Linked DNA regions of Homo sapiens. The protein of the gene in region 1 purifies or fractionates together with the protein of each later gene. This does not show direct contact. Each region holds a gene or a part of one and is shown on either strand. Other genes may lie near its edges.

Evidence for each region. The genes of interacting proteins can lie anywhere in the genome.
Region 2: the proteins of NFIB (region 1) and PRDM1 purify together in Homo sapiens (co-immunoprecipitation; one large-scale study listed by IntAct). This does not show direct contact.

What each region holds. Positions count from the first base shown.
Region 1 is NC_000009.12:14,115,067-14,118,719, forward strand, and holds part of NFIB (nuclear factor 1 B-type), read right to left. Parts: intron 1,281-3,653; coding exon 1,142-1,280; coding exon of another isoform or gene 1,115-1,141; intron 1-1,114.
Region 2 is NC_000006.12:106,092,724-106,096,376, reverse strand, and holds part of PRDM1 (PR domain zinc finger protein 1), read right to left. Parts: intron 763-3,653; coding exon 643-762; intron 1-642. UniProt on the Homo sapiens protein: Transcription factor that mediates a transcriptional program in various innate and adaptive immune tissue-resident lymphocyte T cell types such as tissue-resident memory T (Trm), natural killer (trNK) and natural killer T (NKT) cells and negatively regulates gene expression of proteins that promote the egress of tissue-resident T-cell populations from non-lymphoid organs.

The DNA.
Region 1 (3,653 bases):
ACTTATTAATTGACGGGGCTCATGAATTTTGAGAAAGAAATGCTGAATTCACTGTACAAAGTATTGTCCATTTTTCTTATAGGGTTCCTTCCTAGTCTTTCAGAAACCATAAAAAAAAAAGAGCATCTTTCCAATGGCTGAGAAAGAATGAGTGGTGCATGCCTCTGATTGTCTCTGATTCACATGGAAATTTCAAGATCATGGGGATTTTCTTGCTCTAAGAAAGAAAAAAAAAAGGTTTGAATTGAAGATATCTGTATAATTGGTGAGGTGCATGCTAATTCCACCAATTCGATAGCTTTATCCATTCTACTTCACCAATTTGTACATTCCAGCTCCAGTACTAAGAAGCTGACAGTTGGGTGAAACCACCTCAAAATTAATTTCTTCTATACTTCTAAGTATTTTACATGAAAAAACAAAGGAATGATGCGGCTTATTGGTACGTGTTAGGAAGGTTCACTGGCTAAATCTCTGACATTTAAATGTTATGGCCACACTAAAAAGCACAGTATTTGATGTACCAATGATAAGCAAAATAATCAAAAGGTTTTAAAAAAAAAGCTTGCAGATAGTGAAAGTACAGGTAGCTTACATGTGCCTAATACTAAGTTTTGAAATGTCCTCATCTGTTCCCAACCTTATGCGACTGTTTTTAACAATGACATAACCTACAATGATGTAAACATGCAATTACCTTACAGAGGCACTGATTCCATCTGCTTTGTGAAGGGGCTTGATTTCTATAGGAATGCTCCAATAAGTACCAATTACCTAATCTCTCTTTGGGTGATACGAAAACTTTGTATTCTGCGTTATGTTACTCAGTGCAATTTCAATGTATACCTTGAACAAGCAGGCATGACTTATTATTTTTGTTATAGCTGTTAACTTAAACAAGTGAGCTTCTCCCTTTTCAAATATGATTCACTGACTGGAATTTGAGAAGAGAGAGCCTGTGATAGCAGGGCCACATCCATGCCTGCTAGCTCCACTTAAATGAGAAATCTCCATCTGGTCAGGTAGCTGGAAAAATTGCCGTGTTTTCCACCTTGGATCAGATATCCAATGGTGCCTCTGATGGACATTTCTCATTTCCTATGGAAATACTTACTGGTTGCTGTAGGTGAAGCTGCCTCACCTTCAGTGGATGTAGTGATGGGTTTAGTATCTGTCATGCTCAGGGTCACAGGTCGCACTGCACTGGGATGGGGAGAGGGTGCCAAGACAGGAGTGAAATGGCCAGGCACTTTCCCTACTACTTGACCACTGCCGTTAGGCTACAAAACAAAAACAGAATGCCGGGTGAAGCAATCCAAAAGGCAGTCATCTTGTTCAACAAGTCCACTCAGCACACACGACTGTGTGGATCCAGCACACTGCGCATAGGCGCCACACAGGCCCTCTCGAGTCGGAGTCGGAGAGGCCAGTCAATGGTTGGTAGTAATAAGGAGCAGCAGCATTTCAAAGAAGGTTTTCATCTTCAAAGCACGTCATGGTATAGGTGAATTCCTCTTTACAGCACCCCTGAGAGCCAGGTAGACTTGATCCTTTCATGTAGTAGGCCAAGAAACTCAAGTGCAGACTTAAATGCTTAGCCCAAAGGCTAAAATGGAATTCCTTACTGAACTAGCTACAGTTGGAACCCAATGCTTCCTTATTCTCTGCTCTTCATTTTCTATAATGAGTCAGTTTTGGCTTTTAGAACACAATTTTCACCTACATGATGATATCACTGAAACAAAGGACACAAAAATATCTAGGAGATCAAATACAACGAATTCTGGAATTTTCATCATTTACAGTCAAGAACCATTCTCCTGCATACAAAACTCTAGCTCTCTTACACACAGGTGTGCTGAGATGCACACATTAGGCAATTTAGATTCCGAGATCTATGGTCAACTTTTGATGATTTACTAATACAAGAAGATAGAATAAGATGTAAAGCATCTAAAATTTCAGAGGTCATACAATGATATAAAATGCTGAGCTACGTTTGTCCTTACACCTACAAATAAAAGATTTCCAAAGTAAATTAAACTGTACTGAGGGGAAGCAGAGGACAAGCAAATGAGCATTGTTATTTGAGTTACTCTTACATCCATGGTGGTGCATGGAGAGTTACACAAAACATTTCTTGTTGACATTTGTGAGAATTAACTGAGAAAATCCCCTGGGCAATGATAGAAAAGATGTTACTATCTGAGTTTTAGCTCCTGGGTACAAAAATAGTTTCCGTGGTAGGAAACAAAATCCTAAGGATACACTCTTTGAAGAAATAGTGGAATATATTTTTCTAGACTGAGAATGTTATTTTTGATTATACCCATGTTGGAATTCTCCACTGCACGGTGTTCATCGCAATTTGCTGGGAGGCTATTCTCGGCAAGTATATAGTCTTTATAATCTGAACTGTTAAAGGCAAAAAAAAAATGAAGCAGAATATTTTTCTAAATATCTGCACATAAATTACAAGTAGACATTTATTTAGAGAAAAAGATGAACAGCTAATAACACTTAAATATTGTGACTTAGAGACATGAACTAAGTCTTCGGTTAGGCTCCTCAGAGGCCACATTATTTATTCTATAAAGAAAATGGACTTCCTGAATATCCTGATTATTCATCATGGGTAATTTTAAGTATTTAACTTGATGTCAGGAAAATTGACCAGAGTTTTCCAATATGGAAACCTATGGGAGAGTTACATCTTTAAACTAATTTTATTCAAAATATTCCATTGAATAGCATGACTGTCTCACTATAATTGGTGCAGCAGTAATGCAATTAATCTCAAAATTGCTGTGGGGAGGAAAAGGCATCTCAGTTGCTTATCTTAAAAATCAAAATCAGTGCAGTGCTGGAGAATATTGGGAAGCAACAGCTGACTAGAAGTGAATGGTGAAGGAATACTGATGTTTTTCCATTTCTAAAGCTAAAATGGTAAATACCAAGAATTCTAATTTGAAATGCAAATTAATTGGTTTTGAGTTGGAGTTAAAAATCAAAGCAGATACACTGTTCCTTAAAAAAAAAATCTGCAGTTAACTATAAAGACCCATTTTTCCTTTCAAAGGGAAAAAGTAGTTTGTTTCTACAGCAGGCCATCCATTTCTGGTTATCTGAACACTGGAAATAAGTGCTTTAAATATCTTAAGAAAGAAGACAGGTCTCATTTTATCATTGGTGGTACATTCAATGGTAAAAATGTTTCTACATACAGTGTTCACCAAAACAGTCTGAAAGTACCTACCTGGAACAAAATGTCTGGAGCAGAATGACAATAATTTCAAGGAAATGCTGCCACCAAATATATTATCCTACCCTGACCATTCTACAAACTTCACCTACTGGAATTGAACAACATGAACTAGTAGACACTTCTCTCATTTGAAAAGAATAAAGGTGACAAAGAAAGAATTCCCAAGTCAATGCAGACAACTTTCCTAAAACTCAGGGTGAGAAGAATTGAGGGCTATTTTCTCCTCAGTTTTCTACTGGTTCAAACAGATGAAGCTACACTAAAAATTTCTATCTTTTAAGGCTGTTAATAGATGAACTTTCATACTGTAGATAGAAAAGAGAGATGTCTTGTCTGAAGGTGAAGCTAACAGCATTAGGAAAGGATTATTCTACTTTATACACGGTTC
Region 2 (3,653 bases), on another chromosome or scaffold:
CCAGAGATCGAGACCATCATGGCCAACATAGTGGAACCCCGTCTCTACTAAAAATACAAAAATTAACTGGGCATGGTGGCGCGCACCTTAGTCCCAGCTACTCGGGAGGCTGAGGCAGGACAATTGCTTGAACCTGGGAGGCGGAGGTTGCAGTGAGCCGAGATCATGCCATTGCACTCCAGCCTGGTGACAGAGTGAGACTCCATCTCAAAAAAAAAAAAACCAAAAAGATAATTCATTTGTGATAACTCTTCCATTCAATTAAAGTTAAGTCAGCAAGAAATCAAAAAGGGGTGAAATCTAAGGCTTGGTAACTCATTACTACTTCCTTGCGGAGAAATGCAAATGAACCTATCCTTAAAGCAAGCAACAAACTGTTTCCTTTCATTACAAAGCTCTAATGAATTGCAAAAATCAAGATTCACATATAGCCCGTATCTCCATCACTAACCACCTACAGGCCAGACATTTCATCGGTTTCATCACATTTGTTCAGAATTCCCTGTGTCCATGGGGATGCTGGATACTTATGGGTGAGCCCCAGCATTTCTCAGCACAGGATGAGAAAGGTGAGCCACCCAGCTCTTTTAGCTCCATTTTTTCCTAACATTTAATGGGTCTGAAGAAATTTCCCTTACTTACCCTCCAAAAATATTTCCTGTTGGCGTTCTTAGGAACTGTGTCATTGGTGTAGATTTCACCTATTAGGGGTCCAAAACGTGTGCCCTTTGGTATGTATTCTTTACTCATCACTCCAATAACCTAAACAGGAAAAAACACAGGAAACAATTACTTTGACTATAAAATGTTAACCAATCTTTTCAATTAAATAAATTGGACTGTCAAGTAGTAATACAACTAACAATGATAAAATTTTGATAAGTAAACAGACATTAATGATGCCTACATAATTAACAAGCTTCACCATAGGGGGAGACCATCTTTTAAAGTCTGAGATCATAAGCAAATACTCAACCAAGCATTAAAACAGTCTAGGGGATTATTGTCTGGTAATACGGGATCTTTTATTTTTATCATTACTTTTTATGCTAGAACAGCGAATATAACCATTCTCTTTTAGAATGAGAATAAGACACTGCAGAATTAGATGGTCAAGATTAGACCATTTCAGCCTGTTCCTAGTTTCCTATTTCTCATTCTCCCTCAAACCATAAGCATAGTGTGCTTGAGGGGAATAAAATAGTTCTGACCTCAGAAACCAAAATAATGTTCTTTGGTTGTTCCATAACAGCCTAAGGAACCAGAAACCAAATGCATTATGTTTTTTTCATTCCAGATGAGGTTTGTGTGTGTGTGTGTGTTTTTTTTTTTTCATAGCTTGTACATTCTCTTTAATAAGAGATCTTTCAAGTAACTTTGTTCTTCTCTGGCCTTCTACTTTGTTCTTCTCGAGTCTTCTACTCAAGAGTGGTCAAAGGCCCTCGTGTGTGTGTGTGTGTGTGTGTGTGTTTTAAAGACAAGGTCTCCCACTATCACTCAGGCTGGAATGCAGTGGCTTGATCTTAGCTCATTGCAGCCTTGACCTCCTGGGATCAAGAGATCCTCCCACCTCAGCCTCCTGAGTAGCTGGGACTACAGGCATGCACCATCACGCCCAGCTAATTTTTGTTGTTATTGTTGAGAAGGGGTCTCACCATGTTGCCCAGCCTTGTCTCAAACTCCTGGACTCAAGCGATCCTCCCACCTCGGCCTCCCAAAGTGCTGAGATTACAGGCTGAGCCACCATGCCTGGCCAAAAGCCCTCCTTTGAAATTAAGTTTATACGGAGGAAAGCTGTAGGTTCTAAGATCTGAGGAAATGACCTCAGACTGGATGCATCACACATTTTAACTTTGTGGGGCCTTGCTAAAGAAACATGTTAACTATACCAGTTCCTCCTTAATAATAAATTTCTCTTTGAAGGGGTAAAAAAATCACCAACCGTGAATCAGGAAGCAATTCGTCACTATTCAATAGAACTCCTCTGTGAGTAGTCCTTTACAACAGTTTGCAGTTACAGTTTTGTTTTGGTTTTTATTCTCTCACTTTCCTAGTTTTATTTTCTTCTCATTCAAGATAGCCTACCTATCACTTTACTGAATTCTTTACTAAAATGGACCAAGGAGGAGGGAGTGGTAATAGATGATAATGTTTATTTTCCAGTTTTTATATTCCCAGTAGCTCCTGTACATTCATGTACCTGAAATGGTAGACTCAAATATGTGAATCGATCCATGCACAGATTGTTCACAGTGGAATCTACAATTTTGGTTACAATATACACCAGTTCCTCATTAAGTCTCATCAATAATTTAAACCTCTATTTAAATAGATATGGCACACCTACATGCCTGTGACAGACTAGCTTTTCTCATTTAAGTGTCTTATCAGCCAATGATTTTTTTTTCTAAAACAATTTAGTATTCAATATACAAATCAATGAAGCATACTCAGACTGGAAAGAGAAAAAAAGAAAATTTTCCTACACCTAACATAAGTTGAAACAAGAGTGTTATTTTTGGTCCTTTAAGAATTTCTGTCAGAGAGCTGAAAAAAGCAGATGTTCATTTCATCCTCCTCCTCTGCCTTCATTTACATCTATCTGCCCTTTTAATCACCGTTTGTCATTATTGGTATTTGTTGGCAGTAAAACTACTGGGGACAAGAGTATCTCAGAGCAGTCTTGAGATATAAATATATATATTTAAAGCTTTAGTAGACTTATTCAGAGGCTCATTGTTTTGGACATATTATTATTGAATCTAATTAATTTGGAAAATTAATGGAATTGAATTCTATGACATGCAAATCATTTAACATTCATATTTCAGTGATTATTCCATAATATTAGAATGACAAACAGGAAAAACAAATCATGCCATTTGTTGGTGAGCCAATAATTAGCAGTTGATATTTTCAACATATCTACTTTACAACAGTAATTTTAAGAAAGGCACTCAACTGGTTCATCAACTTTGTTTTAAATTATAGTCTCTTACAGATGGTGTCTTGGGAGTCAGAGCTTGATTACCAAAACGGAGCACTGCACTGAGGTCGTGGTTCTTCTTCCAAATTGCCATTCTTTTACAGAATGGGCCTCTAGGTTTTCAGTTATCCATCTTACACACATTTTCTTGTGCCCAAAAAGAAGTCAACTAGAAAGCATAAGCTACCCAATACCTATTTGAGCACAACTATAGACTCATCACTAGTAAGCTATAAAGCAGCACCGGAAGTAGCTCTTGCCATCTCTAACCTTACAAATTCAATTCAACAGGCAAGACAGGAGAACAATTAAAAAGAGAAGGCTCTGTGGTAGAAGAGAGGTCTATGATAATCCTCAAACCCCAGACAAATTAAAGAGCTTCAATATTAGCTTATCATTAGGAAAGGGACAGAGCGCCCTAATATTTTAAATTTCAATTACATACAGTGCTATAGGGCACATATAAACTCACACCTATAGATAAAGATACAAAATCATAAAATTTCAAAACTGGAAGGCACTTACAAACCACCTATATCCATTCTAAGTCTAGCGTTCTAATATACAGTAAACATCTTCATCTCAAATGCACGTCTGAGACACAGACGCCATAAAAGCTGAAACTCTAAGACTATGGTGCTTGTCCAGGTAACTTTGGAGGGGGAAC